3 separate regions of the Homo sapiens genome follow, and regions 2 and 3 are each linked to region 1. The links come from fine-mapping of genetic effects on gene expression. A gene starts in region 1. Each other region holds a variant in brackets. All regions are shown on one strand. Distances are from middle to middle.

Region 1 (5,257 bases):
GACGCTCATCACCTATGAGCTGCCTCTTGCCCTGAGCTGGGGCTTTGGGGGCAGGACCCAGCAGGAGGAAGTGTCCCATCCTCACTGGAGGTCTGAGTGCTGCTTTTCACCTGTCCACAGGCACCCACTAAGGTAATCCCCATGGGCTTGTCTACAGAATAGTGCAGGCTTGTGTCCCGCAAAGAAAGACTCACCAAAGCCCTTCGCTTCATCTAATAGCTGAGGTTGGATCAAGTGTGGTGTTCACACCTGTAATCCCAGCACTTTGGGAGGCCGAGGCAGGAGGATCATCTGAAGTCAGGAGTTTGAGACCAGCCTGGCCAACATGGTGAAACCCCATCTCTACTAAAAATACAAAAATTAGCTAGGTGTTTGGTGGGTGCCTGTAATCCCAGCTACTAAGGAGGCTGAAGCAGGAGAATTGCTCAAACCTGGGAGGCAGAGGTTGCAGGGAGCTGAGATCCCACCACTGTACTCGAGCCTGGGCAACAGAGTGAGCCTCTATCTCAAAAAAATAAATAAATAATAAATAAAATCCAAGGTCCTTGATGTATAACTGACCTTGAGGCTGTGGAATGTGGTTCTTGGGCAGGCATTCACCAGGTAGAGGAAACCCTCTGCACCCTCGTCATGGCCCACTGGCTGCCAGTGCCAGCAGCTTCTTCCCATCCCTGCTCCTCAGCATGCTGGGCCATGAGCAGGGCAGGGCGTCAGGGCAGGGTGGCAGGAGCAGCTCCTCCTGCTTGGCAGAGATGAGTAAAGCACTCAACATGCACCAAGTCCCCCTTGACTTGTCCCCACTGCTGCTGCTGTCACAGGACAAAGGCAGGGGAGCGGGAGCAGCCCAGGACAGCCACAGGGCCATGAGCACCATGCCACCGGGAGCTAGTGACAACACAGGGTGGACAGGACAGAGAGTGGCCCAGTACTGGGCAGGACCAGCCACAGACGCTGCTGCTCTCTGAGCACGGGGACTCTTTGCAGTGGCGCCCATCACTTGGGCAGCTGGAAGCACAGTTTCCCCCCACAGATATTTCGTGGGGTTTTTTTGGTTTTTGGTTTTTGGTTTTTTGTCGTTGTTTTTTTGTTTGTTTGTTTGTTTTTTTGAGATGGAGTCTCGCCCTGTCACCGAAGCTGGAGTGCAGTGGTGCGATCTTGGTTCACTGCAACCTCTGCATCCTGGGTTCAAGTGATTCTCCTGCCTCAGCCCCCTGAGTAGCTGGGATTACAGGCGCACACCACCACACCTGGATAATTTTGAATTTTTCATAGAGGCAGGTTTTCACCATGTTGGTCAGGCTGGTCTCGAACTCCTGACCTTAAGGTGATCTGCCGGCCTCGGCCTCCCAACGTGCTGGGATGACAGGCGTGAGCCACCATGTCTGATACTTGGTTTTAATAAGTGTGCATCACCGCCCTGCCCCCCGCCCCCAGCCCCCAGTGTGCTCAGGTAGCCGTGAACCAGGTGTTGGGCTAGTTTAGTGGAAGGGACTGACATGGAGACAGGAGAGTGGGCTCTGGCACTGTGAGGGAGGCCGAGGAGCCCACCGCCTGAGGTCAAGTCCTGCCTGTGCCACAGAAGGCCCTGATGTCCCCTACAACCTCACACATCACATCCTCAGCACCCTACCAATGCTGGCCTCTGTGGGTAGCGTCCCCTGTGAAGGGATGCGGCCCTTTACTGTAGCCACGCTGACCTGGTCCCAGAGAAGGCAAGGGAGCACCCACACTGTGGGGGTGGGGCTGGTTAGGACCCACCCGGAAGACTGAGCCGCTGGGTCCTGCTGCCTTCCCCAGGGCAGGGTGAAGGGTATATGCTGTCCAAGGGGCCCTGCCTTCCAGACCCCACTCTGCCTCCGGGGGAAGCCCAAACCTGCCCTTCTCGGCATCCCTGCCTCTCCTGTAAGGCGCTGCCAAGCCACACTCGAGTCACTGTTCTTCCTGGATCATGCCAAGGGTGGGAGCCTGGTCCCTCTGGGTGTTGAAGGAGATAATTCAGGTGTGATGAAAAGGAATGCTCCTCTCTGGCTCTGGACACACCCAACACAGAAGGAGGCAGGTGCCTGCTAAGGCTGACGCTGGTTAGAGGCAGTGCCAGGACAGTGCCGTCCCATATCCCAGGCCGTGCTTCCCTTCCTGGAACAGGCCAACCTCGATCACAGCCAAGCACCACCTGCACAGGCTCACAGGGCAGAGCGCTGCAGGGGCTACCCGACTGGGTGTCCTAAGGTGAACAGAAGCCTTTCAATGGGACATTAACTTGAACCGAAGCCAGAGGAGCCTGCATGACACTGTGTGAATTAGCTTACTCAACTGAAACAGGGCATTTGAGTGCAGGAGACACTAGGCTAACAGGCCACCCTACACCCCTGCACACACACACTCTCACCAGCTGCGGAGGAGGCTGCACCCACCATCCCGGGCTCCCAGCGACAGCTGGCTCTATCTTGGACTTCACTGTTCCTGCTGTCAGGCTGGGGATGGAACTCTCTGTCTGCTGCTTGTTGGAGCTCTTCCAGCCCAGGGTGTTGGTTAGTGGGTGAAGCAGGGGTCTTCTCTCCTCGCCCTGCCCCCTGCCCTGCACCAGATGAAAGAGCACACTCAGCATCACGAGTGGCTCTAAGTGTGATGAGAGAAGGACCCTCCCTGGCCACACTCGTGCTAATAGGAAGTGCTGGCGAAAGCAAATGATCAAAATCGTATCCCAGCCTCTTCATGTCACCTGCAGCCAAATGGCTTTGCATCTGAAAGCCACACATAATTGTCAGCATCCATGGGTTCTAATCAGAGATTTTTTTTTTTAAGTCTTGGTAGTTTTTGTTCATTGCTAATACAGAGAAGGATGCAAGCCACTGTTTAGTGTCTGGATGTAAAAGAACATTTCTGTGCCGTGTGGCCTCATTGCAGAATCTTCCAAGGTACGAGTCAGCCACGGAGGCCTGTGAGGTTTTTATTCCTTGCTTTCAAAAACACAAGCTGTTTTTCCCCTGGAAGAGCATGTAATGTGCAAAAACATTAGCAATATTGCAAAATGCTTGCGTGAAATAACTGTGGAAATATTTCACTAACTACATTAACCTTCGCTGGCTTTTCTTCCCCTCCCAACCCAAAGAGAGATAATTTCTCGGGAGTCTTTATCTCGTTCCTCTGTATAATTGCCGCTTTAAATCACAAAAGCCTTTAGAGTTATGGATGCAAAACGCATGGAGCTATGTTTAGGCTGTGCTCACCTGCAAAGCTGTGCGATCCAATGTCCCCCCAGAAGAGAAACCAAAGGAAGAGCGTGGGGAAAGCTGGTGTCTCTCTCGAGGTGTTTCCGAGCAGCCGTGTTAATATCATACGACAAGATGGGGCCCTGTCTCTCGTCACTTCCTTTTGTTCTTTCCTTCTGAAGAGTGGATAATTCCTGGCAGTTTCTGTTTCGCTTGTAATTGTTTTTTAAATTAAGATAAACCTTGCAGCCCTGACTGTTGAGATGAAGGCGCGGCTGGTGGGGAAGCACCTTGCTTTTGTGAACAGCAGAAAAGGTGATAAGACATTGCGGTGTGCTCCCTCCCAGAGTTTAAGCACCGCAGTTACCACTTTGCACCATGCTCATGGGTGAGCGGGCGTCTTCCTTCTTGCAAGTTCCTCCCATGTCTCAGTAACGGAGAAGGAGGCGGTAGTGGAGGGCAGTCGGCGGTGGGGGTTGGGGAGTGCCGCCTGCTGTTTGGCAGCATCGCCCGTGTGTCTGCAGGGCCCTCCTGCCTTCGGGTGGAGGGCATGTTCACGTAAGTTGACTCATGTTTTGGGCGAACGTTGGTGGTGAGAGGAGCTGAAGTCTCCCCATCTCTCAAGGATGCAGCAGCCAGGTTTAGTTCTGTGCTCTATGGGCCGCACCTCCTGGCCCCCCATCCTGCTCCGGATTCCACAGCTTGGTCTTGACTCACCAGGAAGCAGGGCAGCAACTTGAGAGTGATGCAGGGGACACGTGCAGGGGTGCAGAGTGTAGGGGTGCAGGGGTGCGAAGTGTAAGTGTGTAGGGGTGCAGGGATGCAAGATGTAGGGGTGCAGAGTGGAGGGGTGAAGGGGTGGAGAATGCAGGGGTGTAGGGGTGCAGGGATGCAGAGTGGAGGGGTACAGAGTGGAGGGGTATGGGGTGCAGAGTGTAGGGGTGCAGGGGTGCAGAGTACAGGGGTACAGAGTAGGGGTGTACAGTGCAGGGGTGCAGCATGCAGGGGTGCAGAGTGCCATTCCTAAGCCATCGTCTTGTGTCTGTGTTCTGTGTATTTGCTTGCATGCTTTTCTCTCCAGCGTGATTTTCTGATCCGTGGATACACACAGGCTCCTCCCTATTCAGCTAAACCTCCCAGCTGCCTCTAAAAGCTGGGGATTGTAGGGGTCGGGGAGGCGTGTTCTCTCATTGTACCATCACATTGAATTGTCTCAAACACCCTGCCAGGTAGAGGTGGTTATTTCCCTTTGACATGAGACAGTAACCATTAGCTTGGTGGCTTCCCTTGGTCCAGTGAGTCATTAAACCTGACTTGTTGGCTACAGGCGAGTGCCTGGTGGTTTCTGGGCATTGTGCTTGGTCAGATCCGACGTTCCGAGGGTTCAGCTCTCCAAGGCCACACCATGTGTCCCCCCGGCTCCCTGCCCTGAGCTCCTCCCGAGGTAGCTTGCCACTCTTGCACCCTCCAGTAGCTCTAGCACAGAGTAGGAGCTAAGCGCACAGTGGGACTCAGTGACCTGAAGCGGGAGGTGAATTGAATGCCTCCAGGATGAGTATGTCTCTTCTCAGCAGCCAGAAGGGTCCAGTCCAGAGGCTGCCCTTCACTGAGAGCATGCTTTGCTCTCTAAGGAAAGCCCAGAGCTTTCTTTCACCATCTTCTAATGTGCATTCAGCAGAAGCTGTAACTCACTAGAAATGGATGGAATTAAGGCCAGGCATGGTTGGCCAGGCTGCTGGACAGTCCTCTCCAGAAGAGGAGCCCACCCCGGCCTGGAGGATGGACACCAGGGGCTCTCCCTCTGCCTCCAGCCCTCCTGCTTCTCAGTGTCTAAATCATCAGAAAAAAAATCATTTCTGGTTCATTGACCTTTCTGCAAATTATAATTTACACCCAAGGGTAAAATGTCATATAACTTTTATGCATTTAGCTGGGCTTTTTCACTGCTATCTTAAAAAACAATTCTTTATCAAGACTTCATGTCAGAATTGCACAGGGATAATTACCTCAGGAGAAACGCTTCATTTGCATAATGCACCATGCAC
Region 2 (5,257 bases), 110 kb after region 1:
GTGGGAAGTGCAGGTGGGTGGTTTGGTGTGTTTGGCAAGCCGACCCAAACTCCCATTACATGCTATGGAAACCCTTGCAGGCCCCAGATCTCTAAATTTTTTTTCTGTCCCCCACAGCCCTACCTTCATGGGGACTGCCCCCCAACCCCACTCCCGCAGTTCTACCCCCATGCCCCACCCCCACACCCGTTCATGTGACCCAGATCCATCTCCTTGGAGCCCCCCGCCCCCAGGTGAAATTGAGCATGCCTCCTGTTCTCACTAGACAGAGGCTCCGAGGGAGCAGGCGAGTCCTCTCTTGTCAGAGGCCACATCCCTGCACCTGCGCAGCACGGCACATCCTGGGGCTCAGCGTCCTGCGTGGAACATACTCAAGTCCATCCACATCCTCTGCCTCAGAGACAGCAGGCCCTAAGCGTGCTTCCCCGGGACCCTCCCTGGGCTTCTACCGCCTGCCACACTCCACCTGTCCCCCTGCATCCAGGAGGGCAGCACACACCTCCCGGGGCCTCTGCCATCCGGCCCAGGGCCACCACCTCCCAAGGCCCCCCAGGACCTGGCCAGCCCAGGTTGCCCCGTTTCTGCTGCTGGTGAGGTGGGGCTGGGCTGACAGGAACCCCAGGAGATCTGCAGCGGCCCCGCCTCCCAGGCCTCCCCCATGCTGAGCTTGCCCACCTCAACAGACGCCCTAGCGTGTGCTCCGGAGAGACACTGAAATGAACTTGGTCCCCCTTCCTCACCCATTAAGTTCTTCCCCCGAGGCCAGAATCCATCGCAGGCAGGCCCTGCAGAGCGGCAGGAGCGGGCGGCGCTGGCTTCACTCCGCGGTCATTTACTTCCGCTTCTGGGCGCCCTTTCTTGCCTCTACACATCTTGCTCTTGGTCGCACGTGCTGAGTCTCGGAGCTGCAGGAGCTTGCCAACTGCCCACCTCCGCTCCTCTCTCCTGATGCCCTGTTTGTTGATGGTGCAGGAACCCGCTGCTGCAGTTAGGAAATTGAAATGTCAGTCGGGAGGGCTCCTGGAGTGGGGTTTGAAGCTGAGCTCTGAAGGCCTCGAGGGCAGGGAAAGGGAAGAACTCTGGGAAAGAGGGCCGGGGTCTCGCCCCTCCTGGAGGCACTGGCTACCCTCAACTCTTGGGGGAGCTTTTGTGAATGGAGTTTGCTTGAAATCGATCTTCTCAGCCTCCTCACCAGCCTCACACTGGCGTTATGTCCCTGGTAGACCAGGCGGCCAAAGCTTCCTTCCTGTGGCTGCCCTGACCACATCTGGCACTGGGAACATGCCCTGCACTTGAGGATAAATAAAAGTGAAATTTCAATTAAAAGGATAAATCATGGTGATGGGTCCTCGTGGTGACCAGCAAAGACCTGGCCCACTTCCAGGCTGAATTTCAACTGAGAAGCAGCCATTTCTTTGTAAAAAGTTGTCCATTTTAGCGAGCAGTGAAGTCTCGAGGGAAGAGCCCCAGGCCTCTGTTAGCAGAGCCTGTGCTCAAATCCCTGCACCTGTAGAGCCTGCACCCCCTCCAGGACGGGTGAGTCCCTTGGCCACAGCCAGGCCTGACACCCCGAATGCGCTACTCCCTGACCTTCCATTAATACCAGCTTTTCGCTAGCTTCTGGTCTTATGCTTCACCTGAACCATGCAGCAGGTCCCTGTCCTCATCAAACTTTGATGCCGAACAAAGCAAATGTCCGGCAGGCCACAGTGCAGCCTCCTCCCCCTCAGGACCCCAGGCCCACCCTGCACACCCTCATGTGGTCCCTCCAGGCTCCTGGGCGGGGTGGGGGGACAGGGATTTCTCCGCAACATACCACCCCTGCAGTGGGATTCCCAGCGTTAAGGGGAGAAGGTGTCACTGGCACGTGGTGTGCACAATTCTGAATCCTCCAGCCTCTCCAGCATTTGCCTTCATTCCCACAGAGGCCGAGAGGCTCATGGCTTCCAGAAGGCTATGAGATGTGGCACAGGCACCCGACAGGTAGGACTGGCTGGAAGCCTCGGGCCTGGGCAGGAGCGGCTGGAGCCTGCCTGCATCCACTTCCTCCTTCCATCTCCTTTGACCAGGAGACCACCTTGCCCACTCATCCTGCAAGTTGGGTGGATGCTGCTGCCAACCCAGGCCTGGTAGATGTACCCATTCCAACCTCCAGCCATGGCAGCTGCTTCAAGGCTGGGGTAAGAGCCAATGAGTGTCTGCCCCAGGACATTTGACGGAGCTGTCTGGAAACAGCCACCTTCCCTACTGAGGCAGGGAGCTGGTGGGTCAGAGCAGGGGCACTGGGGCCAGGACACCTGGGTTCTGGATCCCAGCTCAAGGGCTTGTGAGCTGTGTGATCTTGGGTGAGTGACTCAACCTCCCTGTGCTGCAGTTTCCTCATCTGTAACAGGGAAGGGCTGCATATGAATGGCCTTGTCTGTATTAACGGCACTGCCTTGGGTTGT[G/A]GTGATGAGTAAGTGAGTGGATGGATGTAATGTGACTAGTGTACTAGTTCATTTTCACACTGCTGTAAAGATACTATCCAAGACTGGATAGTTTACAAAGGAAACAGGTTTAATTGACTCACAGTTCCACAGGGCTTGGGAAGCCTCAAGAAACTGACAATCAGGGCAGAAGGCGAAGGGGAAGCAAGGACCTTCTTCACATGGAGGCAGGAGAGAGAAGTGCGAGCAGGGGACACGCCAGACACTTATGAAACCATCAGATCTCGTGAGACTCACTCACTCTCATGAGAACTGCATGGGGGAACTGCCCCCATGATCCATTCATCTCCCACCAGGTCTCCCTCTCAACACCTGGGTATTACAATTCAAGATGAGATTCGGGTGGGGACACAAAGTCTAACCATACCACCTGGGGTACTGCCTGGCACTGCAAACTAGTTAGGGAAGCATCCGTTGTCATTACCATCATCACTGGTTCTACGACCTCTTATTTCTGTGCCCCTGACACTGATGCTATTACTAGTACTGTCAAAATTGTAATGTCAGCCTATTGCTGTTACCCCTGGGGCTGCTAGGCTGATGGGATGTAAGCACAGAAGTGTGAGGCAGCAGAAGGGGAGAGAGTACCTGCGAGTCTGAGGGGTGGGCTGAGCAAGTGCTGAGAGCCCCGTCAGAATGGTCACCCTCATAATGGACTGAGCACGGTACTCAGCCCCCATGAGTGAGTGAACACAGTACTCAGCCCGCATGATCCAGCCATGCCTGAAACCCACACCACTCCAGGATAGGAGCCAGCACATTGCCTTTTTGCTTGAGCCAGTTACATTGGGATTTCTGACGTTTCCAATGGACGAGACCTAAAAGTGCCATCATGCAGTAAAAACCTAAATTAAATCATTTTATTCTTGTGGTCTGGGACCTCCAGGCTGGATATACAGATATTTATTGCCCCTTGTCCCTTGTTTCATTCAATCATCCACTCTGGTTTGCAGAGCACTTTCTGTGTGTCTACTAGTATGCAGAGCTCTCCGGGGGAGACAGCAAACATAGTATTCCGGCATTATTACTGATTAAATTAATGATTAAACCAATATTCAGCCCACATTTAGTGACATAGCATAGTACTCAGGCCTCATTACTGACAACACAAAAAGCCCAGATTTATTCACAAACATCAGTATTCAGCCTTCATTTATTGACAAAGCTCAGTATTCAACCCACATTACTAAGCAAGAGTACTCAGCCTTCATTACTGACTGAGCACAGTACTGAGCCCTCATAACTGACCAAGCACAGTACTCAGCCCTTATAACTGACTGAGCACAGTACTCAGCCCCCATGGTGACTGAGCACAGCACTCGGCCATCAGCATCGAATTACAGACACTGCAGATCCTCAGTTACCATCTTTCATATACTCTTGGCAACAGCTCTGCAGGCTGGATTTAAAAAATCCCATTTCCAGATGAGGAGATAAAACCATTTCCCAAAGTGAAGAGCCAGTGAGGAGGCGCCCCCTCCTCTTCGTCTATGGGAGCACTGCCTGGAGGCACAGGGTGCAGGAGTGGGAGACATCCATTCTGGCAGGTCTCCTTCCTATTGGCCCAGCGTGGGTCACATGTCCTTCCTAGCCAATCACAGTGCCCAGGGAGGTGCACTCTCATTGGTCCACGTGGGGTCCCATGGCTGTCCTGGGGCCAGGTGGGATGGTTCCCCCACACAGTCCATGCAGAGCAAGGGTGGGCCGGGGTGATTTCCAAAGACTGGCAGAAGTGGGTCTCGGCAGGCAAAGCCAGGGCTGACGGCAACCTCCTTCTCGGGCCTGACTCCAGCCTCATGGCTTCCTTGCTGCCCCTAAATGCCCTCCTTTGCTGCCCCTTGCCCCCCCTCACTCAGCTGCCTCTCCTTCTGGGGCCTGTGGCCTAGGATCTGGGGCCTGGGGTCTGGGGTCTGGCCTCCATCTTTTCTGCTGGACACTGGCCCCCTTGGGCTCCCACTACACCTGCACCTGTGCTCCAGCCCAGGCAGGGTCTAAGCTCCCTGCATCTTCCAGCCCGGCCCCCAAGGGACAGGACCCTGCTCCCGTATCCCCAGCAGTGTGGCACATTTACAGGGGCAGACAGGTCCTGTTAGAGGAAAGTAGACGCTGTGTGACAAGACCTTCCAGAGACAGGTGGGGACGCGTGCATTAAATATCAATGAAGGTTTTCTGACGAGACTCCTGACTTCTCATGTTGGAGCCAGAAAATGACAGGGACTAATCAGGGGATGGCATGGGCGACACCTCTGAGGGCGAACACGCTGCGCTACAGGTTGACACTTGGCGCTGCCTATCCCCGCAGCCTCACGGGCTGAAACAACAAAGAACCCGTCTCGGCTTTGGACTTGGCTTTAGCTGTGTGGCTCTCTGATAGGCAGGATTATTCCTAGCCCGAGTCAGAAGCAGAAGCTGCCTCCACTCTGGCTTCTGTGCAGTGACAGCTCTTGTTAGCCATCAAGTTCAAGGAGCTCCTTGGACGCCTCACATCTGCCCCAGACAGTTTTCAGAGAGTCTCTCACTCTTCTGAGCAGCTGTCCAGACACCGCTGGAGGCTGGTGCTGTGTCGTCACAGACCGGCTTCCTAAGCTTACAGTCCAGTGGGCGAGACAGAAAGAATGCAGGCAACAAAATAAGAATACAGAGTTCATTTTTTGTCTTGTTTTGTTTTGTTTTAGAGAGATGTGGGCTCACTGTGCTGCCCAGGCTGGTCTTGAACTCCTGGCCTCAAGTGATCCTCCCGCCTCAGCCCCCTGAGCATCTGGGTCTACAGG
Region 3 (5,257 bases), 800 kb before region 1:
AGTGAATAAAATAGATAGTCTTATGCTTTGTGAAACTTACATTCTAGGAAAACACCAAAGGATATTGACCAGAAATTTGCTAAGTGTATAATAGCATAGGAAATGAGATTGTAATGTTTTTGCTTAGACTTGTATTACCATTTCATTTAACAGTAAAACTATCCATAAAAATAAAATAGCCATAGTTTTTTATTAAGACATGTTAAATTAAAAATCCACTAGGAAGGGTCACACCTTATTGTCAGCCGTGGACAACGTAGCCTGAACAAGTTCTTATTCCATTTCTGAGCATGTGAGCAAGAAGTGGTTGAAAGGTAGGACAGAGGAGCTACAGAAGACCCACAGCATAAACAGACTCTGGGGGCACCAGGGAATTGGGAGATGCACTTCATCCAGGTCCCACCTATGACCATGAAGTCTATGACTTCCAGTGCCTGTGCCCTTCAAGACAAGCTGCCTGACTCAGGATACTCAGATGCCCAAAATGATCTGACCACCACCACGTAGGACCTCCCTTTTTTGGACTCTCATGGAATGAGTACTGGTCCTGGTGTTCTACAGAAATACAGATAAAAGCTCAGACATTCTGCCAGGAGCCATGGGAATGAGGATGTTTCCACCAGCAAAGGATCAGCCTACAACTATTAAAAATGCCTTGTTCACAGAACTCTACAAAATAGCTCTTTATCTAAAAAATTGCCATGGCAAATATCACCCCAGTGAATTAGGTGTTTGTGTGTTTTGCGGAAAGTGGTATCTTTTCTAAAAGATTGCTACCTAAATAAGAATGCTCTGGAGAGTCTAATACGGAAATGAAAGGATGGTTCTGTCAACTTTGGTGTCTCTTTTAAGGAAGAGAAATGTATTGCTCTGTGCTGCTCTCCTCTCTCTCTCTCTTGCTCTCTCTCTCTCTCTCTCTCCCCCCATCTCTTTCTCTCTCTCTCAGTCTCTCTCCCTCTCTCAGTCTCTCTCTCCCCTCCTCCTCTCTCCTTTTCCATCTCTCTCTCCCTCTCATTGTTTCCTGTGCTCAAACTGTCAGAAAGTCCTCAAATCTAAGCAATCAGCCTGGAGAGCTTCAGGCTGTGCACGCCACAGAGAGGGTGTGACATATTTACATATTTAAAGGGAATGAGCCTCCAGTTCTCAATGGGGACATGGTGGGGTTTTTAGCTTTCTAAGGCAACATCACCTATTCCTGGAAACAATTAGAGTGCTACACAATAGCCCCCATGCAAACTCCGCAGTGACAGGAACATGAAAGGAAAGAGAATAGGGGCTTTGCAGAAACAGCCTCTTACTCGCCGTTGACAGGGAAGGAAGGTGGAATACCCACTGCAGTGAACACCTCCAATGGTCTCACTGTGGGGAAGCTGCCAGCCTTCTGCCTTCACAAGATGGATGGAGCCCTAGGAAGGCACTATTGTGTGACGGGCTTTGTATATTAAGTATGTGGTGTTGAGAACTCAGGCCAGCTTGACCAGCCATTTCCCATGGAGGGGCTGCACTGAATTCAGTATAGCAGGTTAGAAAGCAATGGGGGTTTTGTTTTTGTTTTTTCAAGGCAGATACATTCTGTGGGCATTGCCCATGAAATGAAATCAAAACAATATTTCTCTTCTGTTCAGTGCCCAAGAATAAGGCCTGTGTCGTGGTCTCCACAAGATGAGCTGGAGGCTCTGGGGGCTGGTGCCCTCCGCAGTCCTCACACACACCGTTAACTGGGTGAGGTCCAGGTGCCAAGCTCTGTGCTAGATCCTTCACAGGCATTAATTATCGTTCTTTCAACAATCCAGCAGCATAGATGGTGATGAGCTTGAAAGTGGAGGAATGAAGTGTTTTTTAACTTTGTGTCTTTATTATCATTTTCCTTTTATATCAAGACCATTCAGCATGTAAATGGCAGAGCTGGGAGGTGAGCCTACCTCCCTTGCTCCAAAGGCTCCCCTTCTACAATGAAGCAGTGTCTCGAGCAGGATTACCCACCTGCACCTAGTCCCTCCCACTGTAGATGCAGGCACACCCAAGGAGCATCCTGCAAGTGTGAGCCCTGCCCATTAAGAGGCTCTCAAAGAGTGTACCATGAGTGAATGAATGAATGATTTTACTTATGTCAGGAACTGAGAGCTCCTGGGGGGCTGTAGGTTGTAACTTCCTGGTCTGCATTTTATCCCCAAGGTGGATGCCACTACTTTAAAAGTGGAGTGAAAAGTCCTTTCATAGCTGTCCAGGTTGTTGGCTTCCTGGGAGCTGTCCGAGG[C/T]GCTGAACGGATGCTGCTGTTAGGAGCGTGATGTTAGTTCTGCGATGGTAAAAGAACAGTTCCTGCTTTTGAGTTTCTGCTCGCCCTGAAAGTTGCCTTCTGGCTGCAGCTCCACAAAGCCAGCCACCTCCCCCCATTTCCATTCTGCCTGATGCTGGCTAATTGCAGAAACTATAATTTGGGCCCAGCTATATGCCTCTGCCCCACCCCAGTGCTGACCCACTCTCCACAAACCATGTTCTGGCCCCAACTCAGTGCCATGCACAAGCTTCTTTGCCAAAGACAATGGGAACCCTACAGGGATTGGTGCAAAGAATCATCTCACAGAATAGTTTGAATGCACCTGGGCATGCCTCAGTGCTGAGGCCGCATAAACCCTCAGCTCAGTGTGGGCTGGACAGCAGTGTCACCAGAAGCCTGCATTTTTCACCTCTGGAGTAAAGGGGAGTTAAAACCTAAATGGAGACTTACAAAGAGGTAGAAATTAATCCAAAACCAAAAGAATAAGAAGGGTCTGAGGTGATGAAGGTGATTCTGGGCAGAGCAAATTACAGCAATGAAGACTCTGAAGTGGGAGATGGGGTAGTTGGGCATGTTTAAGGCAGACAGGAGGTCATGGTGGACCTGGATCCTGGTGATCAGGTAGAAGAGTGGATGGAGATGAGATTGAAAGGCATCCAGGGAACGTAAATGACCATCCAGGGAAGGAGTACACACAGAGAAAGAGCTGTTATTTTAGCTAGAGGGCTGAATTAGTGGTCATGGGAAGGTGTCTAAAGTCATTATTAACATACATAACTATGTTAAAATATTCATTTGTTTGCCTATTTGTTCATTTTCTAGCTTCCCCAGAAGAATGCAGTCTACATGAAGGCAAGGACAATGTCCCTCATGCATCCACCACACCTAGAGTCATACCTGCATGTGGTCCACCTCAATAAATATTTATTGAATGTGGAAGGAGAGCAGCCTACCTGAACATATGTTAGAGACAAAATCATTTTCAGCACACAAGTCAGTCACAGCCTTGAGACACGTGGGCTGATTAATGGGGAAAATGGCAGGGGCAGGGAATCACACTGCAATAAACTTCCCCTAATCCCATCTCTTCCCTTTCAGCTACAGCCCTTTCTTGATTAGAGAAGCAGGAAAAGTTAATATGTGGAGATTTTTCCTCCCCTTCCCTGCCTCCATGAGCACCATTAATAATTTAGTGCAATCTTTCTTCTTATTGGTGCAAGTTATTTGTAAAATGTCATTATCCAAACCATTCACTACATTTGGGGGCATAGCACATGCTGAATGCCTAGTTCCCTTCTGTGGGAACTACCTGCACACAGATCATTACCAAGCACTGCTTGCTCTCTGTAACTGTTAGTGGGTATCACACTTACCCACAGCTTGTTCCAAAGATGGTTCTTGTATTTGCATGTTGCCCCATATGGGGGGAGTTGGTAGAAATCCTCAACATCTTGCAGCCGTGAGTTTTGACCTAATGCAATGTGTAATACAGAATAGAAATCTAATAATAATTTGGTAAATTAAAGAAGGAATGTGTTGATCCATTACGTGCTTTTTTTTTTTTTTTTTTTTTTTTTTTTTTTTTTTTTTTGCCAGGTACTGCACTAGGCTTGGGATTTGGGAGTTGAATATGACCCATTGAAGTTGTCAGTGCAACTCCTACTATAGTAGGAGAGAGTAAGACAAATTCAGGCACAAGTAAATCACTTGGCAAAGCAACTTCCATGTCATAAGAAATGCAGAGCAGTGGCACAAAGGAAAGACCATGAGTATCCTGAGAACCTCGTCTCCTTGTTCTCTGCTCTATTCTCAGAGCTGGGAAATACATGTGGCATGTAAACAGGCATTCAATGAATGCTAGATACAAGAATAAAACTCAAAATTTATTTACCAAAAAAACATATCTGGCATTGAGCAATATCTATCTCAACTATGTCTAACAGAGAACAATTATATAATAGACTTTATTTTTAGAACAGTTTTAGATTTACAGAAAAAATTAGAAGCTAGTACAGAGGGTCCGTGTACACCCCACATCCAATTTTTTGTCCAATTAACATCTTACATTACCATGATACATTTGTCACAATTAATGAACCAATATTAATACATCATTAACTACAATTTTGGAGGATACCCCTCTATTGGAATTCGTTTGATGTCTTCTCATGGTTAGACTGGAGTTATGGGTTTGGGGGAAGAAAGCCACAGAGGTAAAGTGCTTTTCCTATTCTTGATTACAGGAACATCTTTGGCTTTGTAAGAAACTGGTAAAGTAGCTTTACCAATGTGCATTCACAACAGCAGTGAATAAGAGTTCCTATCACATCATATCAAAGGTACATAGTATATGCATGACATTACTGCCTGCCTGCATCAGCCTTGATCACCTGGCTGAGGTAGCGATGGTCAGGTTTGTCTGTTGTAAAGTTACTCTATCTCCCCCTTTCCATTCTATAATCCACCCTATGGATGGATGGCTTCCATCCTGTACTCTATGGAAGGAAGCCACTATGTGTAGTTAATACCTATGGGGTAGGAGTCTTGCTTCTACTCATGGAATCCTACTCATGAAGGCAGGGTATCTGTGTAAATTATTTGAAATTATCCTTCATTGGAAAATTGTCTTTTCTCCTTGTTTATTTATTTGTTCATTCATTTAACCATTAATTTATATCAAAATAGGTTAGTGGAGATTTATTTTATAAGTTGAGTTATAACCCATGCCTTTATTGCTCCTTTAGTTGGCCTCCTTGGCTCAGCTTTGGTCATTAGGAGTTTTCAGTTGGCTCCTGTGCTTTTTGAGATAGCTTTGTCAATGTGTATGTTGTTTTATATTTTGTATGTTTGTTTGTTTTAAGCACTTTCTTCCTTTTTGGCCCTACAAGCTGCTTCAGACCCATCTTGTATATTACCTCCTCCAGTCCCAGAATGAGCCATTTGTTTAAGGATCCCTGGTTACTTTTATTGGAGAGTGGC

The links. PIP is the estimated chance that this variant, and not a neighbour inherited with it, causes the effect. A credible set is the group of variants that fine-mapping cannot tell apart.
Region 2: its variant is the best candidate, but not a certain one, in a credible set for the expression of CDH4-AS2 in whole blood (TOPMed, PIP 0.77).
Region 3: its variant is the best candidate, but not a certain one, in a credible set for the expression of CDH4-AS2 in whole blood (TOPMed, PIP 0.64).

Annotation. Positions count from the first base shown.
Region 1 is chr20:61,716,400-61,721,656 of GRCh38, forward strand. It overlaps CDH4-AS2 (CDH4 antisense RNA 2), which reads right to left and starts at 3,349. Exons shown (of 2, transcript NR_147702.1): 1 at 3,231-3,349; 2 at 1,107-2,987. All of the region lies in intron 2 of CDH4 (cadherin 4), which reads left to right.
Region 2 is chr20:61,829,938-61,835,194 of GRCh38, forward strand. The region is part of intron 4 of CDH4 (cadherin 4); the gene reads left to right. Among named protein-coding and RNA genes, the nearest start is that of CDH4-AS1, 77 kb to the left of the region's middle. The variant G/A (reference allele first, on the strand shown) is at 2,448.
Region 3 is chr20:60,918,981-60,924,237 of GRCh38, forward strand. No RefSeq gene overlaps it. Among named protein-coding and RNA genes, the nearest start is that of LINC01718, 160 kb to the right of the region's middle. RefSeq lists a silencer at 2,140-2,340. The variant C/T (reference allele first, on the strand shown) is at 2,258.